Linked DNA regions of Homo sapiens. The protein of the gene in region 4 purifies or fractionates together with the protein of the main gene of each other region. This does not show direct contact. Each region holds a gene or a part of one and is shown on either strand. Other genes may lie near its edges. The genes, in order: GXYLT2, ZNF496, ADCY6 and NEUROG3.

Region 1 (7,636 bases), on a different chromosome or scaffold from region 4:
AAGGAGACCGAGCAGAGATCTTTCCTCCTGCTCCCTCACAACTTCAGAATCTTCTGTTGCCATTTCTGTGGAGGTAGCAAGAGAAACAATAAATAAGTCCCAGAAAATGTCAACTGTTTATGCATTTGAGCCTGAGACTTCCTGTGGCTTTTGTTTTTTACTCCTTCCCCAGTTTTAAAATTTTGTTCTGTATTCCTATGGTGTTGGCCATAATTTCCACGATAATCTAAGAGATATGTTCAAAAGAAAAATGGCTTCAAGGGTACTGTTACTCCTGGAAATAGAAACACTCCTTCCCTAAAACATCCATTTGGATTCTGTTCATGATCTCCTCCTAGTCAGAGACACTTTGTTCAGATAGACACAAAAAGATGCTGCGCCACTGTTCTCGACACCTTGAAGAATGAGACAGATCCAAAAATCTACAGTGTTTCTTTAAAAGACATCTCAGTAAAATTACGAATTGCAGGCAAGTCTATGGCCTGACATCAGCATAGCAGGTAAGTGCTCAACCTGAGCCCACACTGCCTGGATCTTTATCCTTCTCTACCAGGTTACCTGTGAACCTTGGACAAACTGCTAACCCTTGTGCAATACTTTCCTCATCTGAAAAGTGGGGATACCATTGGTGCTTACTTTGCAGAGCAGGTTCTCAAACTTTGTTGTGCATGAGAAACAATGGGAGGGACGTGTTAAAACACGGTTGCTGACCCCCCAAAGCTTCTGATTCTGTAGGGTTGGGGTGGGGCCCAGGAATCTGCATTTCTAACAAGTTCCCAGATGATGCCTGTGCCACTGGTCTGAAGTCCACACTTTGAGAACCACTGTCAAAGGGTTATGGTTGGGCCCGGCGCGGTGGCTCACGCCTGTAATCCTAGCACTTTGGGAAAGGCTGAGGCAGATGGATCACTGGGCTCAGGAGTTCCTGGCCAATATGGTGAAACCCCGTCTCTCTACTAAAAATACAAAAATCAGCTGGGCATGGTGGCACACGCCTGTTTGCCAGCTACCTGGCAGGCTGAGGCACAAGAATCACTTGAATCTGGGAGGCCTGAACCCGGGAGGCAGCGGTTGCAGTGAGCAGAGATCGCAGCACGGCACTCCAGCCTGGGCGACAGAGGAAGACTTTGTCACAAAAAAAAAAAAAAAACAAAAAAAAAACCAAAAGAAAAACAGCGGTGGGGGGGAAGGTTATGGTGTGGATTATGTAGTTGTATATGTTAAGTGTTAACTGTGACTATTTGTATGTACTGCGGTTAGCACTGTCCCTGGCAATAGGTTAGCGATGTTAAGGATGACAGTTATTATTATCTTACCAGTTGTCCCATCAAACTTAGCAATCATATTAAACTTGCAGTTAAACCCTAATTAATCTCTTACAAGAAACTCCAGTATAGAAGAGGGGAAATCCTATTAATTTCCTAACAAAGATATCCTTAAAGACTGTATACATCCAGAAAGGGCTGTAAAGTGTTATAAGTACTTTAAAGCGACAGATTGTTGGGGTTTTTTCCCCCTAAAACTTGTCAGTACCCATTTGTACTGAGACAGAAGGGAAACAAAGGCTGACACAGCTACTTCTTGAGGTTTCGTGTCTTTTAGTTACAGTAAAGGCACCAAAGAGATTTAGTCATTATGGTCAAAAATAATTTTTCAACTCCTTTCAGGTTGAAATTAAGGAGCCCAGCAAACAAGGACGTTGCAATGGCAGTTAGAAACAACAGTTTTGAAAGGGCAGATGAAACAGACTCGCTACAAGACAAGGGGATTGTTGAAAAGCCCTCCACAACAAAGGAAATGAACTCAAATCCCTAACCTGCGGGGCGTTCCAGCAACCCTGAGGCCAAAAATAAAGCTCTCTGATGAAAAGCCTCCGCGTGTTAGGCTTTGTGTAGGGAAAGAGAGTATCAAACAGAAGGTCGAAGGTTAAGTTGTTTTTCTTGTAGGAGGACCCTTTGACCACACTCGAGCCTGAAACAGAATGAGGATCTGGAAACCCCCACTCTGTCTTTTCTGTGCCACGCATCAGTCCTTTCAAGGAGAAAACTTCTTTTTAATAAACTTAGGTCAAGTGTCCCTTCTGTTCTAAGCATGGGGGTACTCGAGGTTAAATGAGAGGCTGCCAGTCCTTGGTAAACATCTAACTTTTCCAACTCAACCATATCTAAGGTTTCGGTAAAATTCTCCAGTGAAACATGAGAATTAGATAAAACATTCTTGCACCGTGATGGCTTTTGACAAATTAAACAAAGGGTGCATGTTTGCAAGAGTGCAAAAATACGCCTTGCCTTGACAGTTAAAAAATGTAATGTACGAAACCACTTTCCTTGACACTTCAAAAAATGTACGTGATTATCAACACCGAGCTGTTAGGGGGACTCCACCAAGGTGGGTCTTCTTTTCTATCGGGTTAAGAAACAGAAGTGGGCAGCCCGTGGGTGAAACTTGGAAATCTGTCTCTCCAGCGCAAAGCCTCCCTTGGACTTGGCACGGGTGTAGGGAGCGAGACACGGGTCCGCAGATGGGATTCTGGGGTTGCCACGACTCACCTCGCCAACTTCTCCAGTCTCGCAGCGCCCCGGCGGCCCGCTCGGGGGCGCGGACGCGGGGGCCGGCGCCTCCGAACTCCCGGGCTGGCCCCGGGGAGGGCGCCCGGCCCCGGCCAGCGCGCGGGGACAGGCGCGGGGTGGCGCTGCGGGGCGGACGCGGGGCGCGCGGGCAGCGCTGGGGGCTCAGCGCGGCCAGCGCGCAGGGACAGCAGCGCCAGCAGCAGCGCGGCCAGCGCGAGCAAGAGCAGCGCCGCCGCCTTGCTGCGGAGCTTCATGGTGCGGCGCGGCGGCGGCGGCGGCCCCCAGGCGGCTCGGCCCCTCTGCGCATCGCGGCGGCGGCAGGATGAGTGCAGCAGCGCGCGGCGGTCGCCTCCTCCGCCCGCCCGCCGGGGACTGGGGTCGTGGCGGCCGGCGGGCGGCCGGCGGCGGCGGCGACGGCGAAGGAGGAGGAGAGAGAGGAGAGGAGGGGGAGGCGGTGAGAGCTGGGTTACAGGAGGAGCAGCCTGCGCCTACCGTACTGTGTGGAGTAGCCGCCCCTCCGCCCGCCCGCAGCCAGGCTCTCGGGCTTCTGGTAGCTCAGACTCAAAACCACTTCATTCATTCATTCGTTCGTTCGTTCGTTTACTTCCCCATTCACTCACACACCCATGCCATCCACTGTTCCCGCTGATTCTCTCATACCATGATTCACTTATTTGTTGATGTATTCCATGTGCTTCCTCCTTATTTATTTTATCCATCTATCCACACATTTGTGCACTTATCCACACATCCTTTCAGGCAGGAACATCTCTGTCCTGTTTGCCCAGTGCAGGGATCTGCGGGTGGTGGTGCCCAATAAATATCTGTTGAATAAACCCCTATTGCCGCCTCTGTCTTGCCACCTCCCTTTTTCCTGGAGGAGGACATATTCAACAAGGACACATGCAAAATAAGGCAAAGCGAGTAAAAGTAACACGTGATTAGTAGTTGGGGTTTCAGACTCAAAACACCAAAGTAGAACTTGGGACAGCTAGACTGGACCGAACCGATCCATGTAGTCTGAAGAAATTAGAGAATGAATTTCAAAGTTTGGATTTGAAATCTGACACTGTGCTTAACTGGCTTGGTGATCCTGAGGAAGCTGCACAACTTTCTTAAGCCTTAACTTCCTTACGTGCAAAATGGGAATGACAATACTGCTCACTACAGAGGCGTTTTGTGAGCATTAAATTAAATAATGCCTTCAAAGAAACTAGCACAGTGCCTGGCTCACAGTCGGTGCCCAATAAAAGTTCTGTAATGATTAGTTCAATAAAACATAGCTTATAATATACACATAAACACACATTTTATTTTCTTTCTGGCACAGATTTGAGATAGAGTAATAATTTCACAACACAATGTAAGAATGGCTTCTTTGGAGACTTTAACAGCTGCAATCGCCAGATGAAGGTCGTAATTTCCAGACGATTCTTCCAGGGGATCCCCAGTTACAAATCTGAAACATTAGGACACATCCTCTTATGACTCACGGTGAACTGACAGCCAGGACTCCATTAACTCTCTTTTCAGCACACCACAGAACAAAGAACACTAGTTAAGTTATAACAACGTCCCTGAGTTTTTCAGTTTTTTTTTTTTTTTTTTTTTTGGATCACTCTGTAGCCCAGGCAGGAGTGCAATGGTGCAATCTTAACTCACCGCAGCCTCCGCCTCCCGGGTTCAAGCCATTCTCCTGCCTCAGCCTCCCAAGTAGCTGGGATTACAGGCTGCGCCACCACACCCGGCTGATTTTTGTATATTTAGTAGAGACGGGGTTTCACCACGTTGGCCAGGCTGGTCTTGAACACCTGACCTCAAGTGATCCGCCCGTCTCGTTCTTCCAAAGTGCTGGGATTACAGGCATGAGCCACCGCGCCCAGCCCGTCCCTGAGTTTCTACAAGATTCCATGTTGCTTTATAAATAATCTAAAATTTAGTTATATTCTGAATTATTCTCATATTAGCATTTTATTTTAATTCCTTGAGAACCCATTGTATTAAAAGTTCTAGAGATGAGAATATTTAGTAATTTGGAAGCTCTTGCCAAGCAGACATCTAGGAAATGGCAGGGTGCAAGTTCAGTGTGGGGGACATGTTGTAGGTGAGTAAGCGCAAAGAATCCATTAGTTCTCAAAGATGAGGGAGAAGGTTCCATCCTACCAGGAAGCATCTGGAATTGTGGGAAGGCTGACAGGTTCTACTAGCATATGCAAAACCTCCTGCAATGCTCAGGACATACCAACAACGAAAACTATCCTGGCCCAATGTGGGACCCTGTTGAGAAACACTAGGCCAGGCTAAGGCATGATGTTTAGATCTTTCAGGTTTAGAAATGGCCACCACTCTGTTGACATGTGGCCCAGAGAAGCAGGCATTCCCAACTCTGTCTTGCCCCCTCCCTTCTACCTCTAGGAGGACAGATGCAACAAGGATAAACAAAGGCAGAGTGAGTCAAAGTAACACTTGATTAGTAGCCAGGGTTTTAGCCTCAAACACCAAAGAATCATGGACCAAAGAGAGGACTCAGTTTTCTTGAACCTCACTGAAGCCAAAAAAAAAAGCCTAATCTGCCTCCTTCCACTGAGTCCAAACTCAACTTTTGGATTTGTTTGGATTGCTCTGATTGGTGGAAAACTACATCCTCTAATTTTTTTTTCTTTGGATGTGGTCAAATCTCATTTTAGTTGCAAAAGACTTCATTTACAGCACATTCAATAATGAACCAACAGGAGAGTTGCTGACTTTGGAACATATGAATATATAAAAATCCCTCGCAATTCAGGTAGTCAAGATAATAAGCACATACAAGGAAAGCAAACCTCATTTCTCTGAAAACGTTTACATTTTAAAAGATGACTAGGCATACTTGGACGTTCAAAGCAGTAGGATGTCCCTTGCAGGGAAAGAAGGAGGAAAACCCTTTTCCGTGTTGTTAGGCAAATGTATATCAAATATATCCCAATTCCACTTGATAAAGTCAGTTGGATGACCTCCTTGAACCAGGCTAGGGCAGAACACTTAAGAGGGCCTTGGGTGGGGATGTGAATCCAGGAGAAGAGGAACACCAGATCCCATGCAGTGCCAAACACATCTGTTCCACCCTCTAACACAGATGAGGCACGTCGCCCATGTCCCTGGACACCAGATGCACAAGAACAGTCATCAGATGGTTACTGCTCCCATGGCCTGGTGTTTTCTAATGGTCTTAATTCAGGCCATGGAGAAAATCCTTTACCACCAAGCGCAAACTGTCATCGAACTTAAATCATAAAGGATGTTATGGGGGAAATTCTTGTAACACATACATAAGGACTTCTATTTAACTAATTAGAATAATGATTACATAATTGACATTCCTGTTTTCATAAGGTTTTGTTTTCTACACTGGAATGGCTTAAGAAAAAGTTGTCTATTTTTGATTTTATTTTACACTTTCAAAAGAGAGGGAACAGAGAGAAAAAATGTGACTAACTGCTCAACTTTGGGTCCCAGCAGGTACAAAAGTGGACTTCTCTGACTCTAGGTCCATCAGATTTGGGGGAAGTTTCAGTGCCTAGGGAAGGTTAGTGAAGCCCGTTACACCCCCAATCCTACAGAAAGAATTCTATAGCTAATCTATCACAGTGTTCTAGCAAAGCATACGTTAAAAACTACAGGCTTCAACCTAACATCTAAACTTTTAAAAGTAGCATTTCAGCAACAAACAAGCTCAGAGAGCTCATTGCAGAAGTGAAATAACAGAACTATTTCGCAGATGTCCTAAAAGTCAAGCTGCTGCCCTCAGCTCTGCCCACTTGAAGGCTTAGGCAGACATGGAAGGTGGTGGTGGCTCCTTGGCAGCACCATTCACAGTGGTATCATCATACAGGGGCAGTGTCATTGCTGGTAATGTAAGTCAGGACATCAGAGGAGTTCCTGGCATTGATAGCAGTTCCAAAACAGCTAATCAAGTAACCCTTAAAAGTCAAGATAATGCTAATAAACAGAAGAATAATAAGGACCAAACAGGTAGGATTCACTGACATGACATCATCTCTGTAGGGAAAATTCGGAGGCAGTTGTCGTATGTATTCCTGAATGCCGTTTGGATAAACAAGCACAGTGATTGCAACCAAGGTATTCAGGGCAAAATTAAAGATCTGGTAACAGAAGAATGGGAGGATCTAGGCTATGTGTTGCTTGTATGCTCTGTAAGTAGCCAATAGCACATATCAGGATCATGAGAAGAGAAATCACAATGGCAATGCACATGTAGTTCCACATGGCTGGGGAGGCCTCAGAATCATGGCAGAGGGTGAAAGGCACTTCTTACCTGGTGGTGACAAGACAGAATGAGCTACATCCTCTAATGTTATAGAAAAGGCTTCTAGACTCCCTTACCCATGGCTTACCCAATGTCTCACTTAGATGTCTGATAGAAAAAAAATGCTTAATTTTAATGCTTTATAAATCATCTAAAATTCAATTATATTCTAAATCATTGTCATATTAGCATTTTATTTTAATTCGTTGAGAATCCACTGTATTAAAAGTTCTGGATGTGGGAATATTTAATAATTTGGAAGCTCTGAAATCTATTTTTTCTCCTAGAATCTTGACACCTCTAGTTACCTAGTTGCTCAAGCCAGAAATTAGGTGGAAACCATCCTCTTTCCCTCACCTCTTATATTACTGATCTATTGTTGCAAAAAAAATGACCCCAACATTTAGTGGCTTAAGATAATATGCATAATCTCATAGTTTCTGTCAGTCAGGAATCTAGGGATAGCTTAGTTGAGCCCTCTGCTTCACAGTCTCTCACAAGGCTATAATCAATTGTTGGCCCAGGTCTGTGGTCTCATCTGAAGGCTCAGCTGGGGAAAGATCTGCTCCTGGTTTCACTCACATGATTGTTGGAAGGATCCAGTTTCTTTTTTTTTTTTGAAATTCAGCTTATCAGTCTTTTCTCTCAGGGTTAGTAGGTTTGGTGTTTTGTCTAAGAAATCTTTGCCTACCTCTTGGTCTCAAGAAATTCTTTTATCTTCTTTTACAATAGAGCTGTCTGGGCTGGGCATGGTGGTTCA
Region 2 (7,124 bases), on a different chromosome or scaffold from region 4:
ACAGTGCTTGAGCTGCAATCCCAGAGACAGCTTTTCAGGGCTAGGGGAAGAGGTCCCATCTCTCCCTGGGCCTGGTGACCATCCACTCCACAGCTGACCATCAAAGGCTCAACTTAGGCCTTGGACTGGGCTGTAAAGGGGCACGACACTATCATGCCCAAATTAGAGCCTTCAGGGAGTAAAACTGGCTTTCTTAGGAAACTCTAGTCTGGACCTAACCAAAGTAAATGGCTCTCGATGGAACTCCTCATTCCCCAGCCAGCACATGCATGGCCCAGCCAAAGTGTCTAAGTACCAGATCTCTACCCGTCCCAGCCCCACCTCTTCTACTCACCCACTGCCAGGGTCTCCCGGGCTCCCGTTCCAGTGCCTCCACCGCGGCCACAGCCTGCTCTCCGCTCTCAGGCTCCTGCGCCCGCACCCAGCTCTGGATCTCCCGGGGCAGGATGGCCAGGAACTGCTCCAGCACCAGCAGCTCCAGAATCTGCTCCTTGGTGTGCCTCTCAGGCCGCAGCCAGCCCCCGCACAGGTCCCAGAGGCGCTGCAGGGCCTCCCGGGGGCCCGCCGCCTCCTGGTAGCGGAAACGGCGGAAGAGACGCCGAGAGGACTCGGGGCTGGGAAGCTCCCCCTGGGGGCTAGGGTTCTCTCCAGGTGGGCTCCTCATTTTCCTGGGCTCCTCACTTTCCTTCGGAGCCAAGACTCGGGGGCACAGGGCTGTGGGCATGATGGGATTTGATGGGGGTCAGCAGCAGAAGACGACCCTATTTCCAAACAGAAATCACTGGCTTCAGTGTTCTGGTCTCCTGTGGTCATTTCTGGGGGACAGTGACAAGGAAACTGTCAATGCCCTCAGAGACCAGCCCTTTGGAGAAGCCCTGGGAAAGGTAGGGAGTGTTGGTGTGGCTGGTCTTTACACACAGGATGAAACAGACAGAAAGATGCCCTCCCCCCATCAGTACCATTACGTGTGGATTCCCGTTAAGTGGGTGACTGGATGAACAAGACAGGAAATCTGGGAGAAAGTGGTGGCATTTCAACGTGACACTGCTGTTTTGAGCATCCCAGGAAACCAACAGCGCCACATGCAGATGTAATCAAGACGCTCTGGTACCTTGGGTGGCTGGGTCCTCCTGGAGAGATCCGAGATGGGCAGGCCAAGCAGGCCACTATCTTGAAGCTCCGGAGCCGAAGTCACTGTTCTTGTTATTAAGACCTTTACAAATGGAGCTGGAATGACAAAGACATGCATCGGATGAGCCTTCAAGCACATCCAGGAATGGAAAATCCACCCTTCTGGTGGCAGAGGGCTGATGGTGCTGCGTGCTGGATGGACAACCCAGCCAGAATCAGCTTTGCCCAGCAGAGTCTGCAATGGGAGGCAAGGGAAAACATCACATGAGACAGCTACATGCAGTCTACCAGGGACAAATAACACTGCATCTAGAAGTATCAGTGGTTTCCTATGAGCCTTCTGCCAATTCTGCCCTGACCTTCAACCTCGCCTCCACCCTATTCTCTATCCTTGCCCTCTTCAAACCACATTGAAGGCAACTGCACACTCGCCAAAGCCCTTCCTCGGCCAGGACAGAAAAGTGGGTCCGTCACTGCACAGCTCAGCCCTCAAAGAACCCCTGGACACTGCAGCTGCCACACCCCCAAGGTGGGACTCAGGGGTCCCTACACCTCCCCGCTGGTGTGCAGACAACTAGCCGACACTTTTGCCACAACTAGGGTGGCAAGAGACCAGCAACCAGTATACCTGGTGTTTATGATTCCCACTTTAGAACGCTGGGCCCGTGAAAGGGCACATGGGGACACTCACAGTCCCCTTCTCTGCCATCAGGCCTCTGTGATCCTTAGGACCGGCAGTGCCTGCCACTCCCCCATCTGCACGAGGTTGTCCAGCGTGGCCGCGTCTTAACCTCCAACAGCTCACAAGGTGGGAAGGGGGACTCGGGCCTCACTCCCATTTCACAGAAAGACAAGTGATGCCAGAAAAGCTACGGAACAACTGAGTGGTTCCAGAAACACCCACTGCTCTGAATCTCTTTGCTTTCCAAAGTAACAACATACACAGAAACCCATATGGGGGCCGTGGCGGCGTCGGGCTGGACGCATTACAGCGCTCCCCACCACCGGATCGCTTCCAGGGCGGCTCCGGCATCTGGAGCCCGGGGTGGGCCCCGCCCGCCCTGCTCGGCGGCCCCCTGCGGCGCCCATCACACACCTGCAGCGCCCAGGACTACTCAGGCCCGCCCCCCCGAGCACCGGCGCCCACCCGGGCTGCCACTCGGATCGTCTCCAACCAGACGGCCGCGTCCGTCTTTGTCACGGCGGCACCTGGCGCGTCGGAGGCTCGGAGGAGATGCCTGATGAATGAACTAACGTGAGTGAGGCGGAGGAGGGCCCCGCAGGGGCGGAGCGAGCTCCCAGCCTTTCGCGGAGGAGGGACCGAGCTGGATCGGCAGAAAGGGAAGGAGAAGGTCGCTGTGGGCCAGGGAAGGGGGAGCCCGCCCTCCGCGCCCTCGGTCTCCCTCACACGCGCGTCTCCCGTCTCGCCGGCTCCGGGCTCCTCACCTCACAGCCTGGAGCTCCCTCCCGGCGTCCGGCCGAAAACCCTCCTGTGGCGGCGGAAGTCCAGGGCAGCCGTCCTCATCCTCCCAGCCCGCCCGGCCGGGCGTACTCGCTGAGGCGGGGTCTCCGCAGGCGCCCGGCTCCTTTCCCGGCCCGTCCAGACCGCGTCTCCCGATCATCCGGAAAGCCACGGCTCGGCTCGGGGGCAAATGGAGGCGCCTGAAAAACAATGGTGTTGCTTTCTCCCCCGCCCGCACCTTCCTGAGCGCTGGGCTCTGGGCTGGGAGGCGGCGCCGCGGAGGCCGGGCGCGGGCCGAGGAGGGCGGGGCGGGGCCGGCCGCGGGAGCCGGGGTGCACTCACCGCCGCGGCGCGTCCCTGTTGGCGGGCGGCGCAGGCCTGGCCGCCGCGGGAGCCCGCCGGACGCCGAGGAAAGGAAAGGCCGGAGCCCTCCGGCTCCCTCCCCTGGGACACTTCCTGCTCCGCTCTAGGACTGGGGAGGTCTCCGCATCTCAGTGGTTCGCTCCCCCGCCCCCCGGCCGAGGTGTGCGCTGGGGGTGACATCCGACACCCCCGGCCCGCCCCGCTCCGCGCGCGCCTGGGCCTGGCCGCCGGGCCGGGGGCTTTGTGGGTCAGCCACGTCGCCGCGCCCGGGCTTCCCCGCGGGCCCGCCGGTCCGGAAGGTCGGCCCGGGGCTCTTTTCTCCGCTGTTCTCCTTCTCTGGCGCCCCCAGGACACGCGGCCAGTGGACGCCCGGAACGGCCGACCGGGAGTCGCGGCTGGGGATGGAAGCTGGAATTGGGGGTGCGGGATGGAGCGGAGAGAGGAGGCCCCGCGCGCCGTCGGCCGCCTCATTTCAGACTCCCCTGCGACCCCCCCCCCGCCGCCAGCCGAAGCCCGGGCCGCCCAGCCCCTCCTGCCGCTGCGGGACGCCGAAGGTAGCGCTCACATCCGCGCCTTCCGGGCCTGGCGCCCACGTGCGGAGTCCCCGGGTTAGGAAAGGCCGCGCATCCGGAGGCCACGCAGAGCCTCGGGGCTTGCGCAGAGGGGCTGCGGTGAGTCCTGACCCTGAGTGGGGGTCACGGGGCTCGTTGCTCGCTGAAGTGAACACGGTTGCAGCTGTGCACAGTGGCGGAGGGAGAGGATGAGGGACTCTGACCCAAGGTTATGTGGCAGTGAGGGGCAAGCAGAAATGGGGGCCTCCGGACCCCACCCCGAGACAGGGCTGCTGGCCGCTGCACTATGCTGAATATAGCCCAAATTCTTACATGGGTCGTCCCCGGGGAATGCTCATTTTTCAGGCTCCAGAGCTTGAGAGAAAGTGCGAACCCGGTCCCTGAGCAGGTCTGATTCCCATGGCCCCTTCGCCATCTGCTCTGCACCGAAATTGGATTCTCCTACGCAGAGGAGAAGGTGGAGAAGATTCTCCGTCTTCCGGAGGGTAGCTACTGCCGGTAGCTCCGATTTCCTTCGGATCCCCTTTCAAGGGCAAGCAGAAGGAAATCAGTTTCTCCAAAGAAAGTGGCCCGGCTGAGTAAGTGGGAACAAGGTGGTTGGACTGAGGCACGGGATCCTTTAGCTCCGTTGCTCTTCTAATCCCGTGGCCCTGGGCACCGCCACTTCCTCCTCTGAACTGCTGGAATAATCACTTCTGACTAGCAGAGTTACTGGGAGCCGCTGTTTGTCAGTGTTCACATTCTGACTTTAGCAGGAGATGGAGCGAGCGAAGGAGTGAAGCCCTTGTTTGTGAACAGTGATTGTTTCCCGGATGACAGCCAGATGCCGGGCAGGGCCACGCAGATCTTAGCTGGAGCCTACAGGTACAAGTGAGAGCCACCCCCTTTGACGTAACTGGACTGGCATTTACAGAACTCATGTACAGCCCACTCTCAGGAACACCAGCCAGGAACCGTGACATGGAGGAGAGGAATTGGGAGGAACCGAGGGGTCATCAAAGGCTGGTAGGGCTTAGGTGCTCTAGCAAACATCCTAGTCTGTGGGGTTCCAGAGCTCTGGTGCTACAGCTCCCAACCCTTTGATTGGCCCAGGAACTGGCTGTTGAGTGGGCATCCGTGTTCATAGCTCTGCCCCTTGCAACCCTAAAGCAGATAAAATGCAGGAGGCAGAAATTGCTGGCAGACAGCATCCAATTAATCCCCACTACCCAATTCAGTTTCTTCCCCTGACCTGACACGTCCCTGCCCAGCTGTGCCTCCCACTGTTCACCTTTTGAGGCACAAAACGGGCTGTTTATGCTGCTGCTGCATTTAGCTCAAAACAGGGCTTCAGAGTCAAGGTTCTGGACTCAGGCACCCGGATTAAATCCTGCCCTATGAATTCCTAGCCAGGTGACCTCAGGCCTACATAACCTTTCTGTACCTCAACTTCCTCATCCAGAAAACAGGGATGATGCTGTCTACCTCATTGGATGGTTGTGCAGGATCAAAGATTCAGTCATTCAGCAAACCTATACCGAGTACCTACTGTACACTCATGAGTGCTAGGCAGCCAGCCTTCCAGGTGCTCAGGTACATCTGTGAACACAACTGGCTATTGGAGGAAGCAAAATCAGTAACATGACCTGCTCTCTTTGATCTGTGCTACAGAAAAAAAGGAAAGTGGAGAGGCATCAGGAAGTCAGGAGTGCTGGGGAGGGGCTGGTAACAGTCATGGTATTAAAGAGGAGGGCAGGCAGGCCTTACTGTGAAGGTGGTATTTGAGATGAAGTAGTTGGTCAGAGTCCCTGTTTGACACATGGAGACCACCTTGACAGCAAAGGCCCTAAGGGGGAGCGGTGCGAAGCAAGGTGGGCTGGTGAGTGAGAGGAGAGGGATGGCATAGAGCTGGGTGGGGGCACAGGAGCCCGTGGGGAAGGTGTTCGCCTCTGAATGAAGTGGGGTTGTATCAGATACCACGGGTGAAGCATCGGGAAGAGGATCCTGCCTGTAAACCCTGCTCAAGGACTGCACCATCATCATGCCCAGTGTGTGCGTGTATTAGGTTTGTATGAATATAATGTTGCCAATTGTATCTGTTTTTATGAAATGTTTGCTATGTGCCAATGATTATTCGATCCATGGGGAGACCATAGAAGAATGATCCAAGGAGTTGGGAGGGGAATCAAATAATAAATCAGCGATTCTGCAATATAACGCCATTGGTGATCGGTGTCATGAAAGAAATACAACATGGTGGGGAAGAGTGTGCTGGGGATGTTCAGGTAGGGCCTCTGTCAGGAGGTGACATTTGAGTGGAGAGCAGGTGGGGGGCTCCTGAGCAGAGGTGTGTGGGAAGAGTATTCCAGCAGAGGAAACAGCGTGTGCTTGCTCAGCTGGGCAGAGGAATAGTGAGAGAATGGTGAGGCTGGAACCAGGTCACCAGATGTTATAGTCATTAGAGGGTTTCAAGTAGGAGTGTGGCCTAACGGAATCTTGATTTTATCAAGATCACTGTGCAGAACAGATGAAGCAGAGTCTCTGTTAGGAATCGTTGTAGAGATCCCGGCAGGAGATGCTCGGTTCCTGGAGTTGACTGGTGGAGGCACAGCTGGTGAACAGTAGGCCCAATCCAGGCTCTGTGTTGAAGGCATGCTGCCTGTGTTAGAGGAGTGAGGAACGGCTGTGACTGGGGCTGAAACTGGGTGACTGAACAGGCCTTCTAGAGATGGCAGATGCAAGGAAGCAGGTTTCCAGGAAGGGGTTGGGTTTGGGGTTGAATTGGTGGATTTGGGACTTGCTGGTTTTCAGATGCCCAGGAGACAAGTGGGGATGACCCTCTGGGATAGAAAGCTGTGGCTGGAGGTGGAAATCTGGAGTCACCGTATGTAGCAGGAGCTGGGGCTTGAGAGGGTTGAGTGTGTTTTGAGAAGCAGCCCCAGGGAGGGCAGACCCTGCGAAATGCCAGCCCTGGACCGTGGGAGCCCAAGGGGTTAGTGGAGGAGAAGGGAGAGAAGGGGAAGTAGGAGGAGGAAAGTGAGGGAGGACGAGGGCAAGAGAAGGGGGTAGGGAGAGCTGCTGCCGCCTTGAGATAAAAGGAAAATTGCAGGTGTGGAGCCCTGGAATCCAAGTGAGCACCTGTGTTTCAAGGAGAGAAAGAGGTCAGGGGGATAAATCCTGCGCCAAGATCAAATCCGATGAGGAAAGAACACTGCCCATTGAATCTGGTAGAGAGGCCCCTGAGCAAAGCAGACAGTGGAGCTCCTGGGCTAGGGCACTTTCTGGAAGAGAAGGGAGATGAGAGTGGACACAGCCCTGTGGAGAAAAACGGTCTCATCTTAAAGATGGGAGAAATTGCAGTGCATCGCCTGGAGGAGGGAGGGCTGGCACCCAGGGCCCACGGGGAGCCGGAGGGCAGGGAAGGCTGCCTCTGGACCTGAGGCATGTCCACAGCATCTGGGCAGGGAGAGCCTGGGGCAGGCTTCTTCCAACTTTGCCAACACTCCAGTAAAATAAGGAGCAAGTGTGACGTTTTATTTTATGAGGCAACTTGGCTAGCTGTGGTACTCAGTTTTTGTTCAAACACCAGTCTGGTGTTTCTGTGAGGCTGTTTTTTA
Region 3 (7,022 bases), on a different chromosome or scaffold from region 4:
GTCAGGCTGGTCTTGAACTCCTGACCTCAAGTGATCCGCCCACCTCGGCTTCCCAAAGTGCTTACGGGCATGGATTACAGGCATGATCCACCGCACCTGGCCCCTAACACATTTCTTAAAACTCTGTGAAATAGGTAACAATATCCCATTTTAAAGGTAAGGGAATGAGGCACAGAGAGGCCAAGTAACTTCCCCAAGATCACACAGCTGTTAGTGGCTAGTGTGAGACTTGAACCCAGGACAATCAGATTCCAAATCCTGTGTCCTAATCCTACTATCTATCTACTGCATTCCATACTTTGTAGTGCATTCCAGGTTTCCAAGATTCCTACTCACTCTACTGAGTCAAGCTCTCAAGCCCAACCTCAGAGCCCTGGCTTGAGAGTCATCAGTTCTACTGATACAAAGGATGTCCCCTAATTGGAGATGGGGTCCACCATGCCTGGCCACCCCTCAAGGTGTAACTCCCTCTGACACTCAGCCCTGCCAGGCCCTAGGCCTAGGGCCCCACCCTAGGAATGTTCAGCCCCCAATCATCATCAGCGGCACTGGCTAGAGAGCAAGTCTAAGGGAAGCTGGCCTCAGTGTTTCTGGAAACTCAGGAATTAACCTGGAGCTTGCGGCTCCACCCCAGAGTTGGATGGGGCAGGGCTCTGGTTTAAGGAGAAGGGAGAGAAACAGCAGAAGCACTTCCTGGAAGCCAGAGGTTCTGGGCTCTAACTTGAACTAGAACTAGTCCTGCAAAATTGGGCAGGTCACTTAAACTTTGGGACCTCAGTTTCCTCTTGGGTAAAACTGAGGGGGAGGCCTGGCTCACCCCTAGCCATTTCCAGCTCCAGCCTCTGGGATGGGCCTCCTAGCTTCCCTTCCCAGTCCAGCTCACAGGCCCAGGATCAACTAGGCTGAGCTCCCCCTCCCAGCAGCAGGGGTGAAGAGAGGGGCACACTATCTCCCTTGGGGGTTTCTAAGAATAGCCCCCAGTGGGGGAGAAGGGAAGGGGGGCAAACCAGGCAACTTCCCTTCCTGGCCCCAGGAGCCCAAGAGGAAAATGTGAGTCACGGTGGAGGGAAGGGGAAGGGGGACGAGACTGAAATAACTCTGTACACACACATCCCTATCTGACTATGAGAAAAAATGGATGCCAGGGGACCGGAGGAGACTCCAAGCTGGGCCTGGGTCACTGGGTGACACTGTTCAGTATGTCTAAATGAGTGGGTCGGTAGGGGACAAAGTCTCCTTCCTGTGATTGTGAGTAGGGGTGGATCTGGGAAGGGGCTGCCCAAGTAGACGAGGAAGGAGGCCACAAACCCCACCTGTCTAGAAACCCACATACCCAAATGGGCACAGGGAATGTTTCTCAGCCCAGAGGAAGTTGTATGGGCAGCTCTGGCCCCAAGGACTGGCACAGGGGCAGCAGTGAATTTCGCCACTGCCCCAAGAATGTGCCTATCGAGATCCACTACATGAAGCTGTAGCCAGACACTCCTGGGGAGACGGGCACAGTCCTGGCCTCCCTGGGACTGCACCTCCCCAGTCAGGCACTGGGCCTGGCTCTGGGCACCATGCCAGTCGAGAGCAGGGAACAGATGCCCACCCAGCCCATGCCTGGCCAGAGAGGAAGGGGGAAAGGAGACACCACCTCTAAGCTCCTTCCCCAGGAGGGCAGTCCAGCCATAAAGCCCTGGTTGAGAGCCACCCTGGAAGAGAAGCTTTGGGGCAGAAGGACCTGGCCCTTTAAGATGTCTGACAGTGCCCTAAGGGCACGTGCTCCACAAACAAACGGGCTATAAAGTTACTTTTAAAAAGGTACGTTCTGGCATTCTGGCATTCTGGCCAGGTGCGGTGGCTCACGCTTGTAATCCCAGCACTTTGGGAGGCCAAGGCGGGTGGATCATGAGGTCAAGAGATCGAGACCATCCTGGCCAACATGGTGAAACTTGTCTCTACTAAAAATACAAAAATTAGCTGGGCATGGTGGCGCGCTCCTGTAGTCCCAGCTACTCAGGAGGCCGAGGCAGGAGAATCGCTTGAACCTGGGAGGCAGAGGTTGCAGTGAGCTGAGATCGCGCCACTGCACCACTCCAGCCTAACGACAGAGCAAGACTCCGTCTCAAAAAAAAAAAAAAACCACAAAAAAAACAGGTAAGTTCTGTTCTGCAGCACAGGCTGGGTGGAGAAGGGCATCATGCCAGAGAACCTAGCTTCTCACCCTGGGATCCCCAGGCAACTTCCTCTCTGTGCCTGAGGCAGGGTGGGCAACAGGCCACAAGCCTTCAAAACCTTGAGCAAGACAGCACTCTCTAGTTAGGGTCCAGTGGAGGACCCAGGCGCTGTGCTGATGGCGGGGCTGTGCCTACAGCAGCGCCTGAAGGACCCTGGCCTCTGCTCCCTGGGCAGGGGGGTAACAGGAGATGGCAGATCCACAAACTAACATCTCTCTGAAAGGGACTTCCCAGAAACCCCTTCACTGGGTACCATGCCTTCCAGCACTCCCCAAACCTCCCTGCCCCCAGGTGTGAACACTGCCCAGTCGGGTTCTACTCCACTCTAGGAAAGGGTGGGGCCCCAACAGCAACATGAGCTAGATGCTATTTTTATTCCAGCTTTGCAGACTGGGAAACTAAGGCTGGGAGAGGTGAGGCTAGTTGTCTAAGATCCCACAGAAAAGAATACAGCCCACTGGATAAGCAGGTCAGCCTACAGCCACTCCACACGGAGCCGTGGAGTCCCACCTCACACACACTTGGAGCCTGGAGGCAGCAACAGGCATGGACAGAGAACCTCAAGGAAAGGCGCCCAGGTCCCTGGTGCCCAGCATGGGGAAGGTGGGATACGATCAGACTTAACGCTCCTCTCTTCAACAGTCCAACCCCATTCAAACCACATCCAGCCCAGAGAGAACTGACCCCAGCTCTTCACCTTCCCTGTCCTCCCAGAAGTGGCCTTGGTCCAGGAAAGAGGGGACTCCTCTCTTGCTGACAACATCCAAAACCTGCTCTATACCTCCAGATCACCACCTAGAGCTGCTCTTCAGGGATAGCACCAGCGCCTCAGTCTCTGGTGTCAACTTGCCTGCTGAGATGCTAAGGCCTGGACACAGCCTGCACTGCCTTTTCAGCCCCACGGTGGCCCTGGGGCTATATACCACACCCCTGCCTCCAGCCCCACATTCTGTCTCTACAGACTGCACTATTTCAGCGGGCTAAAGAGCCGGAGACTGGGGCCCATGGTGACAGAGTTCAGGCTTGGGTCCTGGGGCCCTCCCTCCCCTCAGCAGTGTCCTCTACCCCAGATCCCACATGGAGGCAGACCCCTCAACCCTAGCCTCCCACCTCCTGCTCCTCCTCCCAGATACAGCCAGACATCCCTGCACCCAGCTTCCACCCATGACTCACCCGCCCTTCCTCACTAAGCCCCCACCTGCTTATGAGGTGAGAAATTCCCCACCTGCTGCCCTCCATCCCTACCTCCCTGGCCACCTACCTGCTTCCAGAGGAAGGCATCACCACGGTTAAGTTGCCAGGCCAAGATCAAATGCAAGGTGGAGAGGCCCAGGCCGCTGAGGACGGCAGCCCGCATGCGGATGGGGAGGAGCGTGTAGGCGATGTAGACAAAGAACACAGGGCACCAGAGGCCCGCAGAGGGGCTGCGCGGGTCTGCTGCGAGAGCGCCCCCGACCTGCACTGCCGCCAGGATGCCCAGCACCACGTAGCTCACCACCCACATGGAGTCCTGGCGGAAGCTATGCCGGTTACACACCACCATGAGCCCCACGAACAGGGCGGCGGCACAGGCCAACAGTGCCACATAGGCAGGCTGAGGGCGGGCGGGTGCGGCGTGGAAAGCCAGCAGCACCGCTGTGAGCAGCACCAGCACCGCCATCAGCAGCGTCAGGCTGCTCTGGTTCATCTGGAAGAAGTACCGCTGGTACAGGCGCTCCAGCTTGGCCGAACGGAACTGCTTCGACTGGAACACCTGCACCAGACGGCGCCAGCAGGATCGCCCACTCCTGGGCACCGCGTCGGGCGCCACCTCAGCCGTCCCGCCCGCTGTCGTTGTCACCTCGGTATCCTCGAAGCCCAGGGCCACTGCCCGCAGCCCCAGCTCCTTGCCCTTGCCTGGGCCGCCCCTCCGGATGAAGGCGTCATCCTGCCAGGGGCACCGAGGGGGGCCCGCAGGGGTGGGGCTGGGTGGCTCTGCATCCCGGAGGCAGCTCATATAGCGGGGCGTGCAGAAGCCACCTGCCCGAGTGCCACGGCGCCGCGAACGCTTCTGCCCATTGCGTTCACCCCAGGCTGTTTTCCGTTCATCCACTTTAGGGACCAGGAGGCCACTAAACCATGACATGTTGCTGGTAGGGAAGGAAGGAGATAGTATTAGAGACCATCCAGTAGGAGTGGTATTAATACCACCATCACAGCCACTGCCACCACTAGTAGCTCATTACCTAAGCACTTCCCACTGACAAGCTATGAGTTTCATCCTCATAAAATTACTTGGAGGTAGGCAACAAGGGTATCCCCAATCAACAGGTGAGAACCCAAGACACAGTCAGGACAAGAAACTTGCCCAAAACCAGGCACAGTGGCTTACACCTGTAATCCCAGCACTTTGTGAGGCCGAGATAGGAGGATGGCTTAAGGCTAGGAATGTGAGAGCAACCTGGGCAATACAGCAAGACCCTGCCTCTATTAAAATTTCAAAAAATTAGCCTGGGCCAGGCGTGGTGGCTCACGTCCGTAATCCCAGCACTTTGGAAGGCCCTGGCAGGTAGATCACAAGGTCAGGAGTTCAAGACCAGCCTGGCCAAGATGGTGAAACCTCGTCTCTACTAAAAATACAAAAATTAGCCGGGCGTGGTGGCGGGCGCCTGTAATCCCAGCTACTCAGGAGCTGAGGCAGGAGAATTGCTTGAACCCGGGTGGCAGAGGTTGCAGTGAGCAAAGATCGCGCCATTGCACTCCAGCCTGGGTGACAGAGTGAGACTCCGTCTCAAAAAAAAAAAAATTAGCCTGGTGTGGTGGTATGCACCTATAGACCGGGCCATTCAGGAGGCTAAGGCAGGAGGATTGCTTGGGCCCTGGTGGTGGAGGCTGCAGTGAGCCAGGATTGTGCACCACTGAACTCTAGCCTGGGCAATAGCCATAGCCTGAAAAAAAAAAAAAAAAGGAAGGAAGGAAAAAAGGAGGGAGGGAGGGAGAGAGGGAAGGAAGGGAGGGAAGGGAGGGAAATAAAATAAAATAAAATAAAATAAAATACAAAGAAAAGAAAAGAAGAAAGAGTTGCCCAAAGATCCAGCAGCCACATAAGTGAGAGAACCACGATTCTAAACCAGATTTGTCTGACCCCAAAGCCAGTATACTTGAAAATTTCCCTAAAAGGCACTGTTTGTTGGTGGTCACAAACTCAAGTGCCCAAGTCAATGAGTGAAGCAGCTTATGGTTCAGAACTGGGAGGAAAAGAGTTCATACCCTGTGCATGGGGCAGGCACCACCCAGCAGCTGTAGACTGTTGCCACTGGGTCCCAGTGGGTCCCGATCTGATTTTTCTCAACAGAAGCAGAAGAAAAAATCTGGAGTTTTTTTTTTTTTTTTTTTTTTTTTGAGACGGAGTCTCACTCTGTCACCCAGGCTGGAGTGCAGTGGCACGATCTTGGCTCACTGCAAGCTCCGCCTCCCGGGTTCACACCATTCAGCCTCCCAAATAGCTGGGACTACAGGCGCCTGCCACCATGCCCAGGGAAATTTTTTCTATTTTTTAGTAGAGACGGAGTTTCACTGTGTTAGCTAGGATGGTCTCGATCTCCTGACCTCATGATCTGCCACCAGCTAACAGTGATAATCCTAAGGCTCTTCAGCTTCCTCACTGCACCCCAGTCACAAGAACCTCTTTGCTGTTTCCCAACACACCCCGCACAGGCCAGCCTGGGACCTCAGTGCCTGCTGTTCCCTCTGTCTGGAACAAGAGCTCCTCCAGGTCACATCCCAAATGTCCCCTTATCAGTGAGGCTCCCTCTGACCACCCTATTAAAATAGCAACCCCCTTTCCTGGAGCTCTCTATCTTTTTCCCAGCTTTATGCTTTTTCTCCATAGCTCTAATCAGCAACTGCCATTCTATATATTTTTCTTATGTGTTCATTTTCTGTCTCTCCTGACTGGAATGTCAGCCTTATGAAGGCAAGGATTTTGACCTGCTGTGCTCACTGCTGTATCCACAACCCTTAGAAGGACCTAAACAAGTGTTCATTGAGGCCAGGTATGGTGGCCCACACTTGTAATCCCAGCACTTTGGGAAGCCGAGGTGAGTGGATCACCTGAGGTCAGGAGTTCGAGACCAGCCGGACCAACATGGTGAAACCCCATTTCTACTAAAAACACAAAATTAGCCAGGCATGGTGGCGCATGCCTGTAATCCCAGCTATTCGGGAGGCTGAGGTGAGAGAATCACTTAAATCCAGGAGGCAGAGGTTGCAGTGAGCTGAGATCACACCATTGCGCTCCAGCTTGGGCAATAAGAGCGAAACTCCATCTCAAAAAATAAAATAATAATAATAAATGTTCATTGAGTAGATGGATGACTGGATGGATGGACGAATGATACTCCATGCACTTTCTCTATGCTTTAAACTGTTCAAGATCTTTTCACATCCCTAATTCCATCTGATCTTCACCAAAACCCTGAGAAACTGGTCCTGTTGCCCCCTGGGGCACAAGACAAATTTGAAAGGAAAAATATATATAAACAAAAACTGAGGTCCATGGCAGTTTTATATGGCTGGCCCAAGTTATAGAGATCATGGTAACCAAATCAGTCCCAGATCCCACATTTCCTGGAGGAAATGTCATGAACTGAGGTGGGAGGACTCCATGATGATACCTTTAATGTGACTCCTGGCTGAGCCCAGGTCAGAATAAGATGAGGCTGACAGCACTGTCATCCATGCATGCCTGTGTCCCCACCAGGGCCACACTCCTCTATGCTCACAGAGTACCCTGAGGGGTCCCTTGTAATTAAACCTGCT
Region 4 (6,802 bases):
TAAAGCTAGGCTGGTGGAGTTGGGGAAAGGGCCAGCAAGTGAGAGTCAGTTGTCCTAGTTGGAGGCTTGTCTTTCTTCTAAACCACTCTTTGAAATAAGAGGAGTCATTGCCCTATATAGAAAAAAGGGAGCTGGACCAATAATTACTTAGAAGACTTCCAGCTCTCCAAACCCAATCTGCCCTGGCTCTAGCCCAGACCTCCAGAAAGAGTGTCATCCCTCTCTTTGGACAGAAGTGCTCTTCCTCAGCTGTAGTGACTGTGGCCCTCCTCTCCCCAACACACAATGGAGTCATCTTGCCAAGGCTTCTTGAAGGTCCATTTTTTTTTATTGGCTTAAAATCTCATCCAGCAATCCCTAAATAATCTAATATACAAAATATAGGCTTTTCCCTGCTGTGAAATCTCATTAATAAATACAAATGTGTAAAACAGGGGAGGGGCCATATAATTTACTGTACCAAAATTGATTTCAAAAGGCATCATATAATTTACAAACAGATTTAAAAAAAAAAGATGCGCGGTGCTCCAGGCACCTGCAGCGCAGCTCACGTTTCAGGCGCAGTTCGCAGGGAGGCTGGGGAGATGCTCCCTGGCCGGGCTAGCGCTTTCCCAGTTCACAGCCTGGTCTTCCGCCCCGGGAGGGCAATGGCTCCGAAAAGTGCACGAGGAGAAGGCAGAGGGTCGCCTTCGTGGCTTTAAGGCAGAGTGAGGCGCCCTGAAATCCCGGACCTGATTGGGAGTAGAGCAGATCGGCAGCGTCTTTGGAGCAAGGCAAGGGGAGTAAGCGCTGAGAGACCAAACATTGGATTGAATCACATTGGAGGAGGGGTGGTAAGAGACTGAGAGGCAGACAGACTTGAGTGAGGGTAGGGCGACCCAAGACGGTGGGCGGCTCCGGCCGGGTAGTGCTACCATTCTAGTATTCTTTGAATGAGATTATGGGGTGGTGGCAGAGAGGAGGCCTAAAATGAGCGCACTTTGCAATGCCCACTTCGCGCGGGCAGCAGCAAGGGTTGCGTGCGTTGGCGCGGCTCGGAGGGCCGGGGAATGAACCCAGCCTGCCGCCCCCGTGGAGGCCTGGGCCGGCCAGGGGTCAGCCAGGGAGAAGCAGAAGGAACAAGTGCTTTTGAGGGCCGCCGCCGTCGGCCACCCTCTACGGCTCCCGGCTCCCTCCCTCTCCCTTACCCTTAGCACCCACAGCCCAGCGACAGACAGGTCCTTTCACAGAAAATCTGAGAAAGCCAGACTGCCTGGGCTCAAGCAGGCGGAAAAGGTGGCCCCCAGCAGCCCGGGTCGCTCCTCCAGCGACGCGGCGGGACTCAGGCTGCCAGCCTGGGAGACTGGGGAGTAGAGGGACCCCCAGTCCCCGGGGGAACCGCCTGGGCTGCCCAGCTCCCCGCAGTGCGGCGCCGGCGGCTCCAGCGCGTACAAGCTGTGGTCCGCTATGCGCAGCGTTTGAGTCAGCGCCCAGATGTAGTTGTGGGCGAAGCGCAGCGTCTCGATCTTGGTGAGCTTCGCGTCGTCTGGGAAGGTGGGCAGGACACCGCGCAGGGCGTCCAGTGCCGAGTTGAGGTTGTGCATTCGATTGCGCTCGCGGTCGTTGGCCTTCTTTCGCCGACTCCGTCGCTGCTTGCTCAGTGCCAACTCGCTCTTAGGCCGGCTGCGTCCCCCGCGCCGTGCCCGGAGCTTCCTCGGGGCCCCTCGGCAGCCTCCCTCTTCCGCCTCTGCGCAGTTCCCCCGTGTGCGAGTGGGGCTGGGCGGGGCGGACGTGGGGCAGGTCACTTCGTCTTCCGAGGCTCTGGGGAAGGACCGCTCCGTCTCACGGGTCACTTGGACAGTGGGCGCACCCGAGGGTTGAGGCGTCATCCTACGGCGGGGTCAGAGGGAAGGGTAAGTTTGAGTCCGTCACTGGGCGCAGTCCGCGATTCCGAGGCTAGGTGGGAAAAAACAAAAACAGCCATCCTCCCAGCCCCCGCTGGGTCAGAGGATCCCTCTTTCCCCTGCCCGTCCCTCGGAGGCCTCCAAATATTACCTTTCTACCGGCGCAAAAGAATAGAGAGCGATGAGCAGCGAGGGCCGTGGGGAGCTCAGCGGGCTTCTGGTCGCCAAGTTCAGCTGAGCTGCAGGCGCCCCCGCCTGGGAGTTGCCCCAGCCCCAAAGGAGAAAAGAAGAGAGAATGGGGTCCGAGGCCTCTGTCACGCTCTCTCTCGAGGCGCGGCGGTGAGACCGCAGGGATTTCCTGAGCAGCAAGTCGTGTGCCCCTTGGCACGCTTTATCTGCTTCGCCCGGGCCAGGAGCGTGCCTGCCCGGCTGCTGCCCGCGCCACCGGCCAATCAGCGCCGGGGCCCTGGGGCCGCGCCACGCGAGCCCGCTCCTCCCCCGCAGGGCACAGCTGGATTCCGGACAAAGGGCCGGGGTCGGGGGAGGGGAGCGCCGCTCTGTTTGCTCTCTCGAGGGCGGGCTGGGTCCCAGCAACTCTCGGTTCCTCAAAGAGCCTCGCCCAGTGAGAAGAGCCTCGTGTGGCTCTGGTCAGGCCACCTCAGACGGCTTTGCTCCTAGCCTATCTTTCCTTAGCATCTGTCCTGGAGGGGACTTTGATGCCTCTAGGGTACAATGCCTGCACGTTACACATGGGGAAATTTAGGCTTAGTGAGGGAGGTGGCTTGTCTGAAATCGCACAGGAAGATAGTGGCAAAGACAACCACGAGCTCATTGTCCTGACTAGCAGCCTGGAGAAGGGTCCAGGAATTCTAAAGGACGCCCTGCTCTCCTGGTGTTTCACTGCCTCTCTTCATCCTGGAAGACAGGGGACATCACTGAGAGAGATCCTGCCTATGTCCCTTCCATTCGCAGACCTTTTGGGGGTGTCCGAGCCTCTGCCACACCCTGAGATGCTACCTCACACTCCCCAGAGGCGCTTAGAACCCCACCCCCATAGATCCCACTCCAGAGGCAGGGGTTGGCTGTGCGGGGACCCCTCAAGCGGACATTCCATTACTACAAGCCTACTACAGCTTGTAGATAGTATCCCAGCGTTCTGGCCAGGAACCGTGACAGGAAGAGTTCTGGGAAGTGTGAGGAGGGGAGGAAGGAACCAGGAGTTCACAGTGAGCTCTTGCTTCTTTTTTTTTTTAAACGAACAAACAAAACCAAAAAACGGTCTCCTTCTGTCGCCCAGGCTGGACTGCAGTGGTGCAATCACAGCTCACTGCAGCCTTGATCTCCTGGGCTCAAGCTATCCTCCCACTTCAGCCTTCCCAGTAGCTGAGACTACAGGCATGCGCCACTGTGCCCGGCTAATTTATTTGTATTTTTATTTTGTATGGGGTGAGGGGCGGTCTTGCTTTGTTGCCCAGGATGGTCTCGAACTCCTGGGCTCAAGCGTTCCTTTCACTTCAGTCTCCCAAGGCGCTGGGAAGCAGAGCTGCTGTGCCCCTCCCCCTCGTGTCTTTTGAACTACCACAGCGTGCAGGCACTGGGAGAAGCTGATAAACTTTTTCTCCCCTTAGTCCTCCGGTCCAATCACAGACAGACAGCAGCTGCCAGCAGTCACCTGCTCCAGCCCCCTGCCTCTGCATCACTCGGGCATCGCACAGAGAGCACAAGGCAGGGACTTCCCCAGCCCCTTGGGTTGTCCCTGGTAGCGCTCTCTGGAAACCTTTCCAAAGGGACTCTGAACTCATCATCCCTCCTTTCTTCCCCAGCCCCTCCTCTTGTCCCCGCCTGGGACATCCCGTGGTCTTCTGCTTCCGGTCACTCAGAGTGAGGGGTTGCAGCTTCCGCTTCTCTCTCTTGACCCGGTCGTGCCTGGAGGAAGACGCCGAGGCGGGAGGTTTAAGTATCCCGGTTTAAGTCTCCTTAGGCGAGGAAGGCTTCTCTTTCTAGCAGGTCCAGATATCCTGAGTCTCCCGGAAACTGCAGGAGGGGACAGGACCCGACTTCGAGACTGTAGGGTGGGGTGAGGGGATGAGGTAGGTCTGTGAGTCTGCCCTAGTGATAGCCTCTTACCGCCTAGGCTGCTTGGGGGCAAATTTTCCTCCAAGGAAGAGGGTGGTATGCTCAGGAACCAGCGAGAGGGGGGCTCTAGGACTGGGCGGGGGTGTGGCGCGGTCCTGCTGATCTTAGCTGGTGCTCTGTGAGCAGGCTCCTTCCCTTGCTGTGGGGAAATGAAGCCTGAGACCAGGGTCAGAACCAATAAAGGGACCATCTGGGACTGTCAGGTTAGCATTTTGCTGCAGCTGCTCCCTTAGGTCACCACTCACTAGGAGCTTGTCTTCTTCTCATAAGAATGGGAATTTGAGGCCTTCTTTAAAGATGAAAAAATCAAGGCCCAGAGAGGGGGAGTGACTCTCTCAAGGTCACACAGCAAGTTCTATCAGAACCACATAGAAGTCATATCTTAAGACTCCTAGCCCTAGATTTTCCCTTGCACCAGCTACTGCTCCTTGATTTGGGAGAAAACATTTTTTTTCAAGGCAAAACAAGAGACCCCAAAATGCAGAAAATAGAGGAAGTCCTGAGTCTGGGGGTCAGATTAGAAAAGAAATAATGGTCCCATTTTCTAGGCAAGGGGAACCACTGTCCATTCAAGCTGCTGCTGCTGCTGCTGCTTCCTCCTCCTCCTCCTCCTCCTCCTCCTCCTCCTCTTCTTCTTCTTCTTCTTCTTCTCCTCCTTCTTCTTCTTTCTCCTTCTCCTTCTCCTCCTCCTTCTCCTTCTTCACACTTGTCTGCCTCATAGGCCAGCCTTGCCTGATTTATTTAACTGCAAGTTAGAAACTGGGAGAGAACCAACTTGGAGCTTTTTTGGTCTGGGAAAGAAAATCCAAACCATGCTTCTCTAGGGCCTCCTGACCTGGCTAAGCACCTTGGAGGGAACCCTGGCCACGAGGGATCCAAGCACCGCTCTGGTTTCCCAGAAGCCTGTGGATGACTCTCATCTGGCGGTGGACCTCAGATGGGGGTGAGTGGACCTCAGATAGGGGTAGGTCTCACTCTGGCTGGGGCCTGCCTGGAGCGGCTAATGGATACTGACAAGGTTCGCAGGGTGAGCTTCCCATGCCAGGAAAGACTCTGGGGATTCTTTCAAGCTTTCTTGATAGGTAGAGAATTCTGGGACCTGCTTGGAATTCTTATCCAGCCTCCCCCAAACCCCTCCGGCTCAGGGCCCTCCAGGGCTTGCAGTTCTCCATCACTCCTGCTTTGCGCAAAAAGCAGCCAGGGCGAGGAGCGCGCGGTGGCTGGGGGCAGCCGCCTTCTTGAGGGATGCAAGGATTTCCCGCAGTCCTCTTCCAGCCAGGAGGCCAGGGCCGGAGGTCAAGGAGTCTTAGGCGATTAGAGATTGAGGATCCATGCCCTCTGTCTCAGCTGCAGGGGACACATAGACCCCTCTCCAAAGTTAATTCCTGTGCCTTTGGCTGCGGAGGCGCAGGCGGTAATGACTCCGTGCGCACCGGCAGTGTTTGTGAAATGGCTCTTCCCGCAGACAGCAGAGTCTGTTCCTGCAGCTCCTGGTCATCCACCGCCCCTAAGACCTCCAGGACTCCCGCACCCCTACACCTCCTGAGACCTAAGTTTGCCTGGAGGCTGAGGGGTCCCGGAGAGAGGCGGTAGCCAGACGCCTGGAGACCGCGGGCACATTGGAAAAGAAGGAAGGCAGCGGCCCGCCTTCCTGCCTTCTTGTCGGCGGGGGTAGTTTTAGCATTGCCTGGGGGCTCTTTGAGAATTGTGCAGGGAGGGAGGGGGGCCATGGGAAGCTGAATAGCTAATGGCTTGCCAGAGGAGGGGGATTCTTTCTCTCGCCTTCAGCTCAGCAGTGAAAGAGGGGAAGACAAAAATCTGGCGAGCGAGCTGCCCGGGCCGAGACTGGCCACTTCAAACAGCCCTTCAAACAAAAGGAGACGACGAAAAGAAAGCCCCACCTGTCTCCAGTGTTTGCTAAAATAATAATAAATAGATTTCGTTTAATAAATAATTACAAGAGATTGTAAAGTGGAGTGCTTTGGAAAACATCTACCGCGGGAGTCCGTGCAGCCAGCCGTCACCTGCTCCTAAGGCGAACAACTTTATTGTTAAGCCACCCCCCAACTAGTTCGCCCTGATAAACTCTCCCTCATTTTCACAATGACTGTTTACTCATAGTTAGCACAATATTACCTTTGCCGTGATAAACCCGGAGGGGGGAGACCTGGCCCCTGGCCCCTGGACACACCTGTCCCAGAAGCTGACACATGGATTTGGCACCAAGCAGGCCTCCCCGCGGGGGCCCTGCCCCCGTGTACATTGGCCCAATTGCCACTCATTTATAACAGGTTGGCTGCAAGGCCTATCTCGGTCCTATTTGTCTTCTTTTATTGAAAGCATATGGTCTCCAGGGGCTCACCAGACCCATATTTCATCTGCCAGGAGCTGGAGCGCTTCCGCAGGCTGGTGCTGCCCAGCGCGCAGCTCCCCACCCAACGGCTGCTGCGCCAGCTGAGGGGATGGTGGAGGCAGGGTAGGGAGAGATAAGACGGGCTCCTCACCCACTTTCGGAGAGAAGCCGTTCCCTCAGAGACTCCCCCTCCCCAGGCTCAGGGACCTCGTGCGCTCTTGAAAGGGTGGCCGGTTCTTTTTCTTGGGTAGGTGACAGGGCGCCATATGCCACCCCCCAGGGCGCACACGGGAGCTCCGGCCCAGGGAGTCTTCGAACAAAGGGAAGAGAGGGCCCGGGCGCTCAGGAGAGCCGGAGGTCTTTATTTCCAGATCCCCCCTCCCTGCTCAGGGCCGCCTCCCCTAGGCGTCCGCAGCTCGCGCGCGGCGCC

What was found.
Region 1: the proteins of NEUROG3 (region 4) and GXYLT2 purify together in Homo sapiens (co-immunoprecipitation; 3 studies listed by BioGRID and IntAct, with this or other methods). This does not show direct contact.
Region 2: the proteins of NEUROG3 (region 4) and ZNF496 purify together in Homo sapiens (co-immunoprecipitation; 3 studies listed by BioGRID and IntAct, with this or other methods). This does not show direct contact.
Region 3: the proteins of NEUROG3 (region 4) and ADCY6 purify together in Homo sapiens (co-immunoprecipitation; 3 studies listed by BioGRID and IntAct, with this or other methods). This does not show direct contact.

The regions. Positions count from the first base shown.
Region 1 is NC_000003.12:72,883,422-72,891,057, reverse strand, and holds the start of GXYLT2 (glucoside xylosyltransferase 2 precursor), read right to left. Parts: upstream 3,013-7,636; 5' UTR 2,825-3,012; coding exon 2,550-2,824; intron 1-2,549.
Region 2 is NC_000001.11:247,328,855-247,335,978, forward strand, and holds the start of ZNF496 (zinc finger protein 496), read right to left. Parts: upstream 3,014-7,124; 5' UTR 2,936-3,013; intron 2,794-2,935; 5' UTR 2,578-2,793; intron 1,228-2,577; 5' UTR 1,112-1,227; intron 762-1,111; 5' UTR 725-761; coding exon 335-724; intron 13-334; coding exon 1-12. UniProt on the Homo sapiens protein: DNA-binding transcription factor that can both act as an activator and a repressor.
Region 3 is NC_000012.12:48,779,088-48,786,109, forward strand, and holds part of ADCY6 (adenylate cyclase type 6), read right to left. Parts: exon of another isoform or gene 5,472-7,022; intron 5,152-5,471; exon of another isoform or gene 4,352-5,151; 5' UTR 4,348-4,351; coding exon 3,484-4,347; intron 1-3,483. UniProt on the Homo sapiens protein: Catalyzes the formation of the signaling molecule cAMP downstream of G protein-coupled receptors. Functions in signaling cascades downstream of beta-adrenergic receptors in the heart and in vascular smooth muscle cells.
Region 4 is NC_000010.11:69,571,176-69,577,977, forward strand, and holds NEUROG3 (neurogenin-3), read right to left. Parts: upstream 2,248-6,802; 5' UTR 2,035-2,247; intron 1,936-2,034; exon of another isoform or gene 1,870-1,935; 5' UTR 1,869-1,869; coding exon 1,224-1,868; 3' UTR 523-1,223; downstream 1-522. UniProt on the Homo sapiens protein: Acts as a transcriptional regulator. Together with NKX2-2, initiates transcriptional activation of NEUROD1. Involved in neurogenesis. Also required for the specification of a common precursor of the 4 pancreatic endocrine cell types.